Linked DNA regions of Homo sapiens: region 2 is linked to region 1. Evidence: fine-mapped expression QTL. Tissue or cell type: whole blood. Region 1 holds a variant in brackets; the other region holds the start of a gene. All regions are shown on one strand. Distances are from middle to middle.

Region 1 (8,340 bases):
TGCCACTTGTGGCTGAGTGGACCTGCTCTTGTTCCCTTACCCTTCCACCATCTCTTTCAGCTCTATTTGTGACTTCTTATTCCAAAGGCTGTTGGCACCACTTGGCAACACACCTCTTCAGCCCTAACTGGAGATAAGAATAGGTGGGAAAGGGGCTATTAATTTCAAACATAACATGGAGATCCAGGACTTGGGTTCCAGGCTTCCAGTTCTGCCTTGACTCTCACCTCTGCTTTCTTACCCTTGAAAGCCAAAGCAAAATTCTCTGCGTCTTCTGGCCAGCCATCCTATATTTTATTGACTCTATGACAGCCATTCATTCAGAGATTCTGATGTAATTGCTCTGGTATAAAAAAAGTGCACCCTGTTCACAATAGCAAAGACTTGGAACCAACCCAAATGCCCATCAGTGATAGACTGGATAAAGAAAATGTGGCACATGTATACCATGGAATACTATGCAGCTGTAAAAAATGATGAGTTCATGTCCTTTGCAGGGACATAGATGAAGTTGGAAACCATTATTCTCAGCAAACTAACACAGGGACAGAAAACCAAACACTGCATGTTCTCACTCATAAGTGGGAGTTGAGCATTGAGAACACATAGATACAAGGAGGGGAACGTCACACACTGGGGCCTGTCGGAGGGTGGGGGGCTGGGGGAGGGATAGCATTAGGAGAAATACCTAATGTGGATGACAGGTTGATGGGAGCAGCAAACCACCATGGCACGTGTATACCTGTATAACAAACCTGCACATTCTGCATATGTACCCCAGAAATTAAAGTATAATTTAAAAAAAAGTGCACCATTAAAAAAATTCACCACTAAGAAGGAAAAATAAACATTCTCAATTATAACTGCGTGATGTCATCAACTGAAAAAATATGTCCCCTTTTCAGAGAAGTTAAAACTGAAAAAAAAAGTCACGTTAAACTGGGTGAAATGTGGTCTTTAACGGTGTCTTGATAGATATTTCTAACACGTGGGGGACATTCATAGCCAGCTTTTCCCATGGCCATTACTACTGCCACTTGCAATGTTCTCAATGTTCTGTCCCTCCTTTTGGAACGTGCTGTCAATTGTAGCAGCTGTAGTTATAAGTAGTTATAAACAGTGCTTTTTTTTTTTGAGATGGAGTCTCTGTCACCCAGGCTGGAGTGCAGTGGGACGATCTCAGCTCACTGCAACCTCTGCCTCCTGGGTTCAAGCAATTCTCCTGTCTCAGCCTCCTGAGTAGCTGGGAATACAGGCGCACACCACCATGCCCAGCTAATTTTTGCATTTTTAGTAGAGACGGGGTTTCACCATACTAGTCAGGCTGGTCTCGAACTCCTGACCTCAGGTGATCCACCCACCTCGGCCTCCCAAAGTGCTGGGATTACAGGCTTGAGCCACTGCGCCCGGCCAGTGGTGCTCTTTTTGATGCAAACCTGTGAAGATTGTATATTTTGGATGTGATGGCTAACACAGAAGGATGCAGTGGCAGAGGATGCTAAAGAGTGGATACAATAGGAAGAGTATGGAATATATCAGAGGATAAGATGTTTAGGGAGGGGGTGCATGTGTCTTTTTAACCACTATGATATAGAATATTTCCATTTCCCTCCTCCTCCAAAAAATGCTCCTTCGTGACCCTCTGCAGTCAATTCCCAGCCCAAGCCCCAGCTCCTGGCAGTCACTAATCTTTCTATCACTATATTTTTAATGCTCCTGAAATTTCATATAAACGGAATCATGTAGTATATAGTATTCTGTGTCTGGAATACTTCACTTAACATACTGTTTTGGGACTTTCCAGGTTGTTGCATATATCAGCTGTTCATTCCTTCTTTATTTCAGAATACAGTTCCTTTGAATGAATGATACTATGGTGCATTTATCCATTCATTAGTTGACATGTATATTTGGGTTGTTTCTCCAACCCAACAAGGAAACATTCAGTCTTTCACCATTACATATGATGGTGACTGTAGGTTTTTGGTAAATGCTCTTTCCTACTTTGCTGCAAGTTTTTATCATGAATGAGTGTTGGATTTTGTCAAATGCTTTTTGTGTGTGTGTCAACTAAGATGGTCACATGATTTTTTTTTGTTAGCCAGTTGATACAGTGGATTACATTGATAAATTTTTAATTAATCAATTTTTGTTTGTTGAGCCACTCTTGCATATCTGGAACAAGTTCTACTTTATGTCCTTGAATAACCAAAGCAATTCTAAGCAAAAAGAACAAATCTGAAAGCATCACATTACCTGATTTCAAATTATACTACAAGGCTATATTAAACAAAATGGCATGGTACTGGTATGAAAGTAGATACATAGACCAATGGAACAGAGTGGAGAAATCAGAAGTAAAGCCAAATACTTACAACCAACTGGTCTTTAACAAAGCATACAAAAACATAAATTGGGGAAAGGACAACCTATTCAATAAAAGGTGCTGGGAAAACTGGATAGCCATATGTAGAAGAATAAAACCGGGTCTCTGTCTCTCACCATATAAAAAAATCAACTCGAGATGGATCAAAGACTTTAAGACCTGAAACTATAAAAATTCTAGAAGAAAACCTAGGAAAACCCCTTCTGGACATTGGCCTAGGAAAATAATTTGTGACTAAGGCCCCAAAAGCAAATGCAATAAATAAATAAATAAATAGGACTGTATTGAAGAAGCTTTTGCATGCCAAAAGAAATAATCATCAGAGTAAACAGACAACCCACAGAATGGGAGAAAATATTTGCAAACGATGCATCCAACAAAGGGCTAATATCCAGAATCTACAAGGAACTCAAACAAACCAGCCAGAAAAATAAATAATCCCATCAAAAAGTAGGCAAATGACATGAATAGACATTTCTCAAAAGAAGATATACAAATGGCCAGCAAATATATGAAGAAATGCTCAACATTACTAATCATTAGGGAAATGCAAATTAAAATCACAAAGAGATACCACCTTACCCCAGCCAGACCACCATTATTAAAAAGTCAGAAAACAGGCCAGGTGCAGTGGCTCAAGCCTGTAATCCCAGCACTTTGGGAGGCTGAGGTGGGCAGATCACCTGATGTCAGGAGTTCGAGACCAGCCTGCCCAACATGGCGAAACCCCATCTCTACTAAAAATACAAGAAATTAGCCGGATGTGGTGGCGGGCGCCTATAATCCCAGCTACTCGGGAGGTTGAGGCAAGAGAATCACTTGAACCCAGGAGGCGGAGGTTGCAGTGAGCTGAGATTGCACCACTGCACTCCGGCCTGGGCAACAAGAGCGACACTCTGACTCAAAAAAAAAAAAAAAAAAAAAAAAACCAAAGTCAG[G/A]AAACAATAGATGTTGGCACAGACATGCTAAAAAAGGAAGGTGGGAATGTAAGTTAGTACAACCTCTATGGAAAGTGGTATGGAGACTTCTTAAGGAACAAAAGTAGATCTACCATTTGATCCAGCAATCTGGCTACTGGGTATCTACCCAAAGGAAAAGAAGTCATTCTATCAAGAAGACACCTGCATATATATATTTATCACAGCACAATTCACAATTGCAAAGATATGGAATCAACCAAAGTGCCAATCAACCGATGAGTGGGTAAAGAAAATGTGGTATATATACACCATAGAATCTACTCAGCTGTAAAAAAGTGAAATAATGTCTTTTCAGCAACCTGGATGAAGCTGAAGGCCATTGTTCCAAGAGAAGTAACTCAGGAATGGAAAATCAAACACAGTATATTCTCACTTGTAAGTGGGAGCTAAGCTATGGGTATGCAAAGTCATGCACACTGGTATAATAGACTTTAGAGATTCAGAAGGAAGGAGGGTGGGAGGGCGGTGGGGGATAAAAAACTGCATATTCAGTACAATGTACAGGACTTGGGTGACAGGCACACTAAAATCTTAGACTTCACCACTCTACAATTCATCTGTGTAACCAAAACCACTTGTACTCCAAAAGCTATGGAAAGAAAAAAATCCTACCTTTTCATGGTGTATAATGATTTTTATACATTGTTGGATTCAAGTTGCTAATATTCGGTTGAGGAATTTTGTGTCTAAGTTCATAAGTGATATTGGTCTATAGTTTTATTTTTCTGTAATGTGTTTGTTAGGTTTTGGTTTCTGGGAAACTGGCCTCATAAAAATTAGTTGGGAAGTACTCCCTCTTATATTTTCTGGAAGAACTGCAAAATTGGTGTTACTACTTTAAATATATGATAAGTCTCCAGTGAAACTCTCAGGACTTGGAGATTTCTATTTCCACCCCACAGGGTTTTGTTTGTTTGCTTGTTTGTTTGTTTGAGACAGAATCTCTCTCTGTTGCCCAGGCTGGAGTACAGTGGTGCACTCTCAGCTCACTGAAACCTCCGCCTCGCAGGTTCAAGTGGTTCTCCCACCTCTGTCTCCCGAGTAGCTGGGACAAGTGTGTACTACTGTGCTTAGCTTAGTTCAAAATACTTACTAATTTCCAGCCTGGGCAATGTGACGAAACCCTATCTCTACAAAAAATAAAAACAAAATGAGCCGAGTGTGGTGGCACATGACCATGGCACAAGCTATTTTGGGGACTAAGGTGTGAGGATCACTTGAGCTCAGGAGGTGGAGGCTGCAGCAAGCCATGATCATGCCACTGCACTCCAGCCTGGGTGACAGCAAGACCCTGTCTAAAAAAATGAAACTTGCTAATTTCCCTTGTGATTACTTTTTTGATCCTATGGATTATTTGTAACCGTACTGTTTAATTTCCAAATACTGGAGTTTTCTAGATATTTTTCTGCTATTTCTAGTTTAATTCATTGTTGTCAAAGAACATACACCGTATATTTTTAATTATTTGAAATTTATTGAGAATTGTTTAATGCTTCAGAATATGATCTTAGTGCATGTTCCAAATGGACTTTAAAAAGAGTATGTATTCTGATGTTTGGGGCAGAATGTTATATAAATTTCAATTGGGTCATGCTAATTGATAATGTACAAGTCTTATATATCCTTGCTGATTTTCTGTCCACTTGTTCTCTCAATTACTGATAGTGATGTGTGGAAATCTCCACCTATAAGTGTAGACTTGTTTACTTGTCCTTTGAGATCTAACATCTTTTGCTTCATGCATTTTGACGCTATGTTAATACTCATTTGAGATTGTGATGTCCTCTTGGTGCAGTGACATTTTTATCATTATGAAATGTTCTTCTTTCTCCCTATTAATGTTCCTTATTCAGAATTTTGCTTTGTCTAATTAACATAGTCACTGCTATGATCTGAATGTTTGTAGTCTCTCAAAATTCATATGTTGAAACTTAACCCCCAAAGTGATGGTATTAATAAGTGGGGGCTTTGGGAGGTGATTTTTTTTTTGAAAGAACTCTGCCCTCACGAATAGGATCAGTGCCTTCATAAAAGGCTTGACCCTTATAAAAGAGGCCAGGCTTACCCCTTTTGCCATGTGAGGACACAGCACGAAGCTGTCATCTATGAGGAACAGGCTCTCACCAGACACCAAATCTGCTGGCATCTTGATCTTGGGCTTCCCAGCGTCAGAACTATAAACTATTGTTTATAAATCACCCAGCCTAAGATATTTTTTACGGCAACTCAACCAGACTAAGACAGGTAGTTTCATTTCTTTTTATTAATGGTTGCATGGGAATATCATTTCCCATCCTTTACCTCTAACTTTATATTTAAAGTGAGATTCTTGCAGTGAGCCTGGATCGTGCCACTGTACTACAGCCTGGGCGACAGAGCAAGACTCTGTTTCAAAAAACCAATGAGACAACATACAGTTGATTTGTTTTTGAAAATCCAGTCTAATAATTTCTGCCTTTCAATTGTACTGTTTAGTCAATTTGCACTTAATGCAATTATTATTATCATTATTTTATGTATTTTTTTTGAGACGGAGTCTCACTCGGTCACTCAGGCTGGAGTGCAGTGGCACAATCTCAGCTCACTGCAATCTCTGCCTCCCAGGCTCAAGCGATTCTCCTGCCTCAGCCTCCCGAGTAGCTGGGATTACAGGCGTGTGTCACCACGCCCAGCTAATTTTTGTATTTTTAGTAGAGACGCGGTTTTGCCATGTTGACCAGGCTGGTCTTGAATTCCTGACCTCAGGTGATCCGCCTGCCTTGGCCTCCCAAAGTGCTGGGATTACAGGCTTGAGCCACTGTGCCCAGCCTCTTAATGCAATTATTGATTTAAATAGTCAATTACTTTTAAAAAATATATTAAAAATGAGAAGCCTTTCATATTTATCCAGATGTTTAGCAATTCTACATTTTTCTTTCCTTTTTATTTTGCATGATTTTTCTTCAGACTGAAGAACTTTCTTTGATACTCTTTATAGTACAGGTTTACTGGTGATGAATTCTCTCAACCTTTGTCTGAAAAAAACCTTCAGTTTACTTTCATTTTTGATATTTTTGCAGAGTATAGAATCCTAGGTTGACAGTTTTTGTCCCCTAATACTTAAAAAATGTCACTTCTTTGTCCTCTGGCCTGCGTGGTTTCTGATAGGAAATGTGTAGTCATTCTTTTCTTTTTTTTTCTTTATGTAATAATTTTTGTGAGCAGCTTTTAACACATGTTCTTTAGTCGCTGCTTCTCAGAAATTTGACTGTGATCTACCTTGGTGCAGTTTTCTGCCGGGGTCCATGAACTTTTGGGATCTGAGTGTCTTCTAGTTTCCATCAAACTTGAGAAATATTTGGCCATTAATTCTTGACATATCTCCAGACCTATAACCTTTCTGGGCTCCATTACAGACACGTTAAACTGCTTGATACTATGCCATGGGTCACTGATGCTGGCTTCACGTTAAAAAAATCTCTCTCTCTTTCTTCGAATCATTTTTACTGTCTCCAAGTTCACCAGTATTTTCTTCTGCTGTGCCTTATCTGCTGTTAATGCTGTCCAGAGTATTCTTTATTTCAGATATTGTGTTTTTCATCTCTAGAGGTTCCATTTGGGTTTTGTTTTCTTCCATCTCTCTCTTAATTACGTTTATGTGTATTCACATTAAACATAAAACACTATATTTATCATTTATTGTCTAGAGAATGCATTCTCTGCATTCTTTTCTTTCCCTTCCTTCCTTCCTTCATTCCTTCTTTCCTTCCTCTCTCTCTCTCATCCCTCCTTCCCTCCTTCCCTCCCTCCCTTCCTTCCTTCCTTTCTTTCTTCCTTCCTTTCTCTCTTTCTCTCTTTCTTTCCAGTGCCTCTCTCTCCTTTCCAGTATTCTGCTCCATGGATTTCACCTCTTCAATCTCCCAGAACCGCAATTTCTTTTTCCTCTACTCAGTGAGGCAAGTGGGTTCTGTTGGGGTTTCTCCTTCCTGTGCTGTATCCTGGAAACTGCCTCCAGAATTCCAAGAATCCAGGAATCCATGAGGTAGGGCTCACTTTATGTGTTTTCTCTTCTCTCCATGAAGAGAAGAGAAGCTCTTTACTGCTGGTTATCAAATGTGTGAGAAATAGTTGTTTTATATATTTTGTCTGTTTTTTTTTGTAGTTGTTTATGGTAGGAGAGCAGTTCTTATGGCAGTTAGCCTTCTAGCTCAGAAGCAAAAACTCACTATGCTTTTCCATGATTTTTATGACTATTATTGGAAATTTATACTTCCATATGATCTTGAAGACCAGTTTCTTCTATTACAAAACCCTGTACCATAAGAATTATAAGTGAAACATGGACTCTCTATATTACTTTTTGGACATTTGACTTTATGTTATTTTACCTCCTTAGCCAATAGCATATTTTGCTATTCCTTTATTTGGGTGTTGCTTTATATCCTTCAATGACACTTTATAAATCTTTCCTCATGTAGGCTGTGTGCAGCGGCTTATGCCTGTAATCCCAGCACTTTGAGAGGCCGAGGAGGGCGGATCACTTGAGGTCAGGAGCTCAAGACCAGCCTGGCCAACATAGCAAAACCTCGTCTCTACTAAAAATACAAAAATTAGCTGGGCATGCTGGTGGGTGCCTGTAATTCCAGCTACTCGGGAGGCTGAGGGAGGAGAATCGCTTGAACCTGGGAGGCGAAGGTTGCAGTGGGCCGAGATTATGCCACTGTACTCCAGCCTGGGTGACAGTGAGAGTCCATCTTGAAGAAAAAAAAAAAAAGGAATTATAACTGAAACATGGACTCTCTATATTACTTTTTGGAAAATTGATTTTATGTTATTTTGCCTCCTTAGCTAGTAACATATTTTGTCATTCCTTTATCTGGGTGTTGCTTTATATCCTTCAATAACATTTTATAAACCTTTCCCCATGGAATCTGGACTTTTTTGTTCTTTATTTCTAAGATTTTGTACTTTTTAAATGTAACATTTTCCTATTTC
Region 2 (8,340 bases), 42 kb before region 1:
GGTACTTCACTCTTAGAGGCAAAATCTTACGTGGTTTCATTTTTGGCTGATTGTGTGCAAATAAAAAACTGCACATCCAAAGTCTTTCCTGTACAGTATTTGCACCAACACTGCACATGGAAAAGGTGGCAATGTTTGTGGCTACCTACCCACCCATCATGCAGCTACACTTGCTGGAAAGTCTCAGAAATGCTGTTTTAGCTCTGCTCATCCCTGACGTGAGCTGGGAACAAGGATGGTAAGAGGAAAGCATGCTGTTCCCCCTGTCCCAAAATGCTGGTGTGAAAGGAGCACAAAGTCAGGAAAATGAGGAGCTGCTTGATGATAACTAGCACTATCAAGAGCTGGTTAGGCAGACAGTCACACTTTTATTTTCCTTATGCTTTTTGACTGTAGATTTAATTTAATTTTGTCATGGCAGGATTAGCAACTGGGCCACAGAGGTGAAGGGACATTATAAGACAGCACATTAATCCTCTATCCCACCCAAGGCAGAAGCAAAACCAAACAAATAGCAGCTTCCTGGAAATTGAATTTCTGTTATCCAGATGTCAAAGATGTAATACCCCAATTACACAAACTATTGCCAGTGAAGCATGCCAACGAATATGCAATGTAAATGGGGTGAGCGCAGAGCCACAAAACTGCACAGTCAGCATCTGGCTCTGTGAGTGAGTGATAATTAGCACTGTGTGTAGACACTAATAAACATTTATGTCTGAAATTACAACTTTTAGCAATGTTAATAAGGGATATATTGGCAATCTGTAAAATAAAAGGTCTTGAAAAGAATGTCATACATTAAGCAATGGCAGACATTTCCCGTTCCTGAACAATTTCCTTTTTTCCCCCTAATTGCAAATGGTCACGATGTTTTGCTGAGGTATTAATTGACATAGGAACCTACCTAAAAAAATGGGCTGTGTCTCTTTGGCCTCCCCATTAACATCGTTGCTGAATTCTGGGATCTTATACACCTCGTGGTGATAATCTGGCATGAGAAAACAACCAAAAATTAGAATCCTAAGGACCTCAAGATAGGAATAAGCAGTCAAGTCTAGAATCTCATTCTATTTAGTTTGTATACTCTATAATTTATAAATAAACTTTTTGAGAACTGAAATAATCACAGAATTTGTAGTCAATAATAATTCCTAAAACTTTGCTTATTCTGGAGTACGCAAACTTGAAAGATTACTTTGGCTTTAGAAGACAGCTTTGCTTGATCACACCATGTTCACGGTAAATTGTACCCACAGATGCCAATTTTTAGGCTTTTTTTCTTTGAGGTGGCAAGTATGTTTGCCCAATCATAGAGCAGGGGAGGTTTCCAAATTTCTCTTCACAACCCATTTTCACCAGCATATCAACAGTATGCTTTAAAGTTTAGCCAGCACTCTAGTTTTCTCAGTTTACCCAGAAAATCTCAGCCTTTAAGCAGCTTAAAGGCAAGCACACATGAAAAATACTGATTTGTTATTTCAAATGTAGTATGATTTGGATAAGAAAGCAAGATTTTCATCTTTCACACAAGTGACTCTTTCGCATTCAGCTACTGCACTTTATTTAATATGCAAGTTTATTTTCTAAAACTGCACCTGCAGAGAAAGAGAAGAATCAGACCTATAATTAAAAGAAAAAGAAAAAAGGAAAAAGGAAAAACTTGCTACGTCAGTCAAAGTTTCAAATACAGTATTTTACAAGCTTCTCTATGGAGGCTACTGCATTTTTGCTTCTATTTTTGAAAAGCAGGGTCACTAAGGCATGAAAATAGAGGTTCCTCCTTAACACCTAGTCCCCTTTCTCTGGCCTTAGACCTCACAGGACAAAGTCAACAAAACTACTCTCACTTTTAAGATAAAGCAGTTAAGTTCTCTGAGGTCATCAATAAGAAAGCAGCTTACATTCCTGAATGAATCAGATAGCACCAACAGGGCAATCACCCAGACAGAGACTTTTAAAAGTCCAAGTAACTGAGTAATCAACACGGATGTGGAAAAAAAAATTTACTCAGAAAGTGGGAAGAGCCAAGTATTTTGAATGCGTGAAACTATTTCAGGCCTCTTTCATTAAACAGTATCCAAACTAAATTAGGGGAGGCAGATAAGAATGGATCTTCAAAATGCCTATAATCAAAGCATTTTCAGATGAACCAAATCCACATCTTAGCTAGCTTAGCTCAGTTTGAAAAATTCGATTACTTGCAATTGTCCACGATTTTTTCACTAATTTTCATCAGTTTACACGTGACTTCTGCAGGTTGTTGGAGTTTCTACCCTGATGCCAATGCTAGAGAAAACGACAGAGGAAAAGTGGACAGGTTGGGGTTTGGCTTTGACCTCAACTTGATTAAAAGACGACATTTAAACAGAGCGGGTCTAAACTCAATATGAGGACTTGTGACATTACAATGAAAAAAGTCACCTGCCCCTAATTAAAGATGACAATGCATTTTGAGATATATTTTCACGATGGCTCTTGAGTTATCATTTTTTTAAAAAAAAAAGTCAAATCAGGAAGATAAAGACTCTTAACAAGTAACTGAACACAGACAAGACTGTATTCCACTTTCCCCTCCCTGACAAAATACAAACCCTAGAGTGTGGTGTACACCTGTTAATTCGTCAGAAACTAGATGGATTTCTTTTCTTTCTTTTCTTTTTTCTTTTTTTTAAAGGATGCTTATCTGACTGCTATATGATCTAGTCTAAAACACCTTTCCAACCCAAATCAGCTAGCTAGAGATGTTGGATGTCAACAATTCCGCCTTGGGCTTGGACACGGCGTGAGCTTCTTTCTCCTTCTTAAAAAGAACAACAACGGTCATCCTTTTTCCTCCTTCTCTTGGCGGGGGGAAGGGGGAAGACCCCAGAAAACAAAAACAGCAAATCTCAGGTCCGAGGGTCCACGCTCGGCCTGATGGCCAGGCAGGTCCGCGGCCGCCCCAGCCCTGCCCCGGAGGCGCCCCGAGGAGGGCTCGGGCCCCCCGGTGTCATTGTTTGCTAATTTCCTGAGCTGCCCTCCGACTTGTTTACGTTAAATAACATCCCTGCTCCCCCCGCACAACTTTCCCCGCCGCCCGGCGTGTGCGGCCGCGGCCCTGCCTGCCAGCCCGGCGGAGGCACCGGGGGACCGGGAAGGACCGGGGGCTCCGGGAGGGCGCGCCCCCCAGCGTGGACCCCCGCGGGCGGCCGAGGGCGCGGCGCCCGCTGCCTGCCCCCGCCGCCCCGGCGGCCGCTTACCTCGGCTCACCAGTTTGAAGCTCTGGGATTTCCTGCTTCTTTTCCTCTCGGAGAACTCCATGGTGCGGGGAAGGCGGCGGCGGGGGCTGAGGAGGCGGCGGCAGCGGCGGCAGCGGCAGCGGCGGCAGCGGCAGCGGCGGCGCGGGCTCGTGTCACCGCGGCGGAGCCGCCGGGACCAAGGTCCGCGCCTGGAGTCGGCGAGGGGAGGCCGCGGGACGGGAGGAACCACCGCGAGCCGGCTCGGGGCTGCAGGCGCGGGGCCCGGCGGCGTGGGCTCCCGGGCGAAGTTGCCCCCGCGCGGCGCCGCCTCCCGGTGCCCTAGGCGCCCCCGCGGCCCCCGCTCATGCCGGCCCGCGGGTTCCAGACGCCGCCCGCCGCAGCCCAACTTTCCGTTGGGAGCGGGCCGGGCCGGGGCGCGGCGGCGGCGGCGGAGGCGGGGGGCGGCTCGGGGCGGCCGGCCCGCCTGGGCTCAGCCTGCGGTCGCGGCGGCGGCGGCGGCGGCCCCGAAGACGCGGCGGGCGGGCTGCGGGGAGGGCGGCGGCGGGTGCAGAGCCGGCCGGGGCGCTGACCGCCCCCGCGGGAGGAGGGGCGCCGGCGGAGGGGGCGGTGCCGCTGGGACCCCAGGGCCACCTGCTGGCGGAGCCCGGCCGCCGCCATCCCCGGGGGCCGCCGCCGGCCTGGCCGCGCGGCGCCCCGAGGAGGCGCGGAGGCCGCGGCGCAGCGCCCTGGCCCGGGCCCGGCCGGCCTGCCTGCCCCCGGGGACGACGCCGCCGCCCGGGCCTCCGCTCGCAGACCCCGCTCGCTGGCCTCCCTCCGCCGCTTGCTGGGCCGAGCTAACTCCGTGCACCTCGCCGTGGGGGCGCGGACCGCCCCGACAACCACCTCCCCGCCCTCACATCCCGGGCGCCCCGGGGCCCGACGCGCTGATTTTAAGCAAGTTTTAGGGGGAAAAAACTTACCCATTTGCGCTCTCTCTAGAAGGACAGAGAGGAGGTTTTAGAATATTGTGGAGAAGAATATAGTAGAGAGCTCCCATTCCCTAACCCAGGCTGGGCGGATTGTGGAAAGAGCCGAGTCACATTCAAGGAGAGCACTTGGAATGGGGGGCTTGGTGGCCCTGGGGACTCTCAGGAGGCCATGGTCAAGGCAGGTGCAGGGCACTATGCTTCTCCACGTCATATGTCGGAATCATGGACCCAAACACAAAGCGCTTAGTAGTTATGTGTAATATTCTTTTCGGGGGATCAGAGAGCGCACTTCAGGCACCATTTCTTTCTCACATCTTTCGAGTGGGCCAGGAAAAGAATTTCACACTACCTGGGAATGGTAGGACAGGAACATGACGGGACATGCGTGAAAGTATCTGCCAAACCCAACCAGGAAGAGGGTAAAGAGTCGGGGGATGGGGGGGCTACCTCTCCGGCACGGGACAAAGGCCAGTGGCCCCAAAAGAGTAGAGAGGAAAAAGGGGAGGTTGACAAATGTGATGAGTGTCACGTGGGTCTCACCCAAATGAGGCAGCCGCTGAGGAACCGCTCTTATTTCAGGGACACAGAGTAGGACAACTGCCGAGGAAGGGGGACATTGAGGCAGCTTGCAGAAACACACATGGAGAAACAGAACCAAAGAGCAGGGTAACCAGCAAACCAGGCAGTGGAGGCAGGGATGGGTACCCATCCCGAGATCTTGGGTGATACCAAAGGCGGCACATCCGGAAGGCTGGTTATACCTAGCGTGGAGGGGAGAGGGAGAACTGTTTCTTCCGTTCAATAAAGCAAACCCTTCAACAAGAGGTTCTTAACCTTTTTTAGTCACTGTTTCCTTTGAGATTGTGTTCAAAGCTCAAGGGCCCTTTTTCCCAGAAAATATGTATGGGACATATAAAATTTAGTATAGATTTATTGGAGTTCTTAGACGCGCTTTGCTGCTCTCAGAAAATTAGTGGTAACAGTGATTAAAGCAACTACCCTATTTGGGTTTCTTCCTTCCCTGCCACCCCTTTCTTTAAAATCAGGCATTAAAATCTGAAGATGTTTTGGATTTTTTTTTATTTTTTATTTTTTGAGACAGAGTCTCATTCTGTCGCCCAGGATGGAGTGCAGTGGTGCGATCTCAGCTTACTGCAACCTCCACCTCCCGGGTTCAAGCGATTTTCCTGCCTCAGCCTCCCAAGTAGCTAGGATTACAGGCATGGGCCACCACGCCCAGCTAATTTTTTGTATTTTAGTAGAGATGGGGTTTCGCCATGTTGGCCAGGCTGGTTTCAAACTCCTGACCTCAAGTGATCAGCCCGCCTAGGCCTCCCAAAGTGCTGGGATTACAGGCGTGAACCACCACGTCCGGCTGTTTTGGATGTTTTTAAAGAAACAAAGCATGCAATTTTGTTCCCCAGGCTGGGATCCATTCTTTCTTTATGTAATGCCTTTTAAAATGTTATTCTCAAAGCCGTAAGGCTAAGTTCTACACTGACTGAGGAACTTCCCGGATCGTTCATGCTTTGGAGCATATAATGAGATTTTATTATGCTTAAACTATGACGAACCCAGTGAAGGTGTCATCCCAAGAAGTAAATCCCTGGAGAAGGTATTAACAACTTAGCATTTTCAGTTCAAGTGGGAATGCAAATTCCATTTACTGAAGAGAATATTTTTGATATAGTTAAGAATAAAATATTTGAGTAAGAATATTTTTAAATAGTAGTCATTTCTCCTTGACCCTTTTTAACCTGGCTTTCCAAAGTTGGTCTATGAGTGAGTTGGCCTGCAGAGGACACAGGCTACGCTTGTCTTATTAGCTTTTAGAGAAAATAAATGTCTGTTTACTCTGCATTTTGTGCAAATCACTATGCTCTTATCTAACAAAAATGTATATATCACATTTAGTATTAAAATTAATAATAATGTTTAATTAAAATGAGGTTGCTTGGGGCCAGGTGTAGTGGCTCACACCTGTAATCCCAACATTTTGGGATACAGAAGGATTGCTTAAGGCCAGAAATTCAAGACCAACCTGGATAACATCCTGAGACCCGGTCTCTACCAAAAAATTAAAATATAAAATAAAACATAAAGTGAGATTGCTTTAAGTAGCAGGTATCCATATAGTAGCTGATCCTTATCCTTGGGGAGTATGTCCAAGACCTTCAGTGGATGTCTGAACCTGAGGATAGTACCGAACCCCGTATATACTATGTTACCATCAAACCCCATATATACCGTGTTTTTTATTGTTTTATGTTTTCTAATAACCAAGCCAACAAGTGACTAACGAGCAGATAGTGCAGACAATGTGAATACGCTAGGCTAAAGAATGATTCCTATTCTGGGCCGGAAGGAGCAGGTTGGCTAAAGATTTCATCATGCCACTCAAAATGGGGCACAATTTTAAATTGATGCATTGTTTATTTCTGGAAGTTTCCATTCAATATTTGCAGGCCATAGGTGACTGCAGGTAACTGAAATCATGGATAAAGGGGGACTACTGTATTAGCCTGTTCGGGCTATCTTAACAAATACCACATACTGGGTGACTTAACAGCAGCTTATTTTCTTACCATTCTAAAGGCTGCAAGTTTCAGATCTAGGTCTGGCAGGGTCAGTTTCTGGCGAGGGCCCTTTTCTTAGCTTGCACACCACTACACTTACATGGCATAGGAAGAGAGCTGTCTTTCTCTCCCTCTTCTTGTAAGGCCACCAATCTTATCAAATTAGGGCTCCGCCTTTATGATCTCTTTTAACCTTAATTACCTTCTATTAAAGGTTCAATCTCCAGATACAGTCACGTTAGGAGTCAGGGATTCAACATATGAGTTTGTGGGGGACACAAATCAGTCTGTAGCCATCTTGTTTTCACTCAAATATAATGTCTGTATTGAGGGGTCCTGGAAAGTTTTCTAGGGGATCTACTGAAGTCATTTCTTTACCCCATTCTTTCCAATTTTAGTATATGTGCTGCCGAAGCTAGCACTCTTTGCCTCATTCTTAAAGGCCCCCTAAAGTTCCAGAACCACAGGTTTATGTGTTACTGGAGATCAGAGATAATTGGTCAAATATTCAATGACATCACGCAGGGCAAACATTTTATTATATGGCCATGCTTAAACCCACTTGATTATAAAGATTACATGTTGGTTTCAATCTTTGACAAAGCCAGATAATTTGGCCAGAAAACCTGAAGTAACCTTACCGCTAATACTTGAAATGCTCTTCCTGAAAACTGTCCTGAGAGGAATAGCATTATGAAAAGTTTCATCTTTATTTAGAGCTCTGCTGTCGAATAGAAATACAATGCAAGCTATGTATGTAATTTAAAATGTCCTATTAGCCACACTGAAAAAAGTAAAAATAAACAGATGAAATTCATTTTAATAATTTATCTTATTTAACTGAATACATTAAAATATTATCATTTTGACACATAATATGAGAATATTATTATTGAGATAGTTTATATGCTTTTTGTTATACAAAGTTTTGAAATTGGTATGCATCTTACCCTTAGATTACAAATCAATTCAAACTAGCCAAATTTCAAATTGTCCATAGTCACATGTAGTTACAGGTGACCATACTGGGCAGCTCAGATTTAGAAGGAATGTATGATTTGAACCATGCTATGTACGTAGATGTAGTATGTCTACAACTTGATTACTGTTTAACTGTTTTATTAATACACCTCAGAAAGAAGATGAGCAGAATGGAATTATTGGGCTTCAGGCTTTTTATAATCTTTGATTGGATTTTCTGGAATTGAATATCCTGTCATTAAATAGATTCTGGGAATCCTTCAGGAAGATTTAATATGTATAAATATCCACTTTTCAACATTAGGACAATCACCCATCAGACGGTCATGGAAGGAATAGATGCCCTCCTTTTAGCTGCCGTTTCCCAAGTGTTGCTGGCCTAATGCAGTTTCTACACCCGTTTACTTCATTGGTTTTGGTGATTGTAATTTAAGAGAAAGGAGGCAGTATTTATAAGATATTTCATAAGTGAAAATGAGAGTTGGAATGTTCCACAAATAATATTACCTTATATTTTATATGGGGCTTCTTTTACAGCTCAAGCATAGGTATGCATTATCTAACTCTTAATAG

Evidence for each region.
Region 2: BEND7 starts here. The variant in region 1 is fine-mapped to the expression of BEND7 in whole blood (TOPMed, PIP above 0.99).

The regions. Positions count from the first base shown.
Region 1 is chr10:13,567,282-13,575,621 of GRCh38, forward strand. No RefSeq gene overlaps it. Among named protein-coding and RNA genes, the nearest start is that of PRPF18, 16 kb to the right of the region's middle. The variant G/A (reference allele first, on the strand shown) is at 3,325.
Region 2 is chr10:13,525,231-13,533,570 of GRCh38, forward strand. It overlaps BEND7 (BEN domain containing 7), which reads right to left and starts at 3,784. Exons shown (of 9, transcript NM_001369863.1): 1 at 3,243-3,784; 2 at 908-991. The coding sequence starts at 3,303. BEND7-DT (BEND7 divergent transcript) reads left to right here and starts at 3,374. Exons shown (of 2, transcript XR_930674.3): 1 at 3,374-3,422; 2 at 4,790-5,034.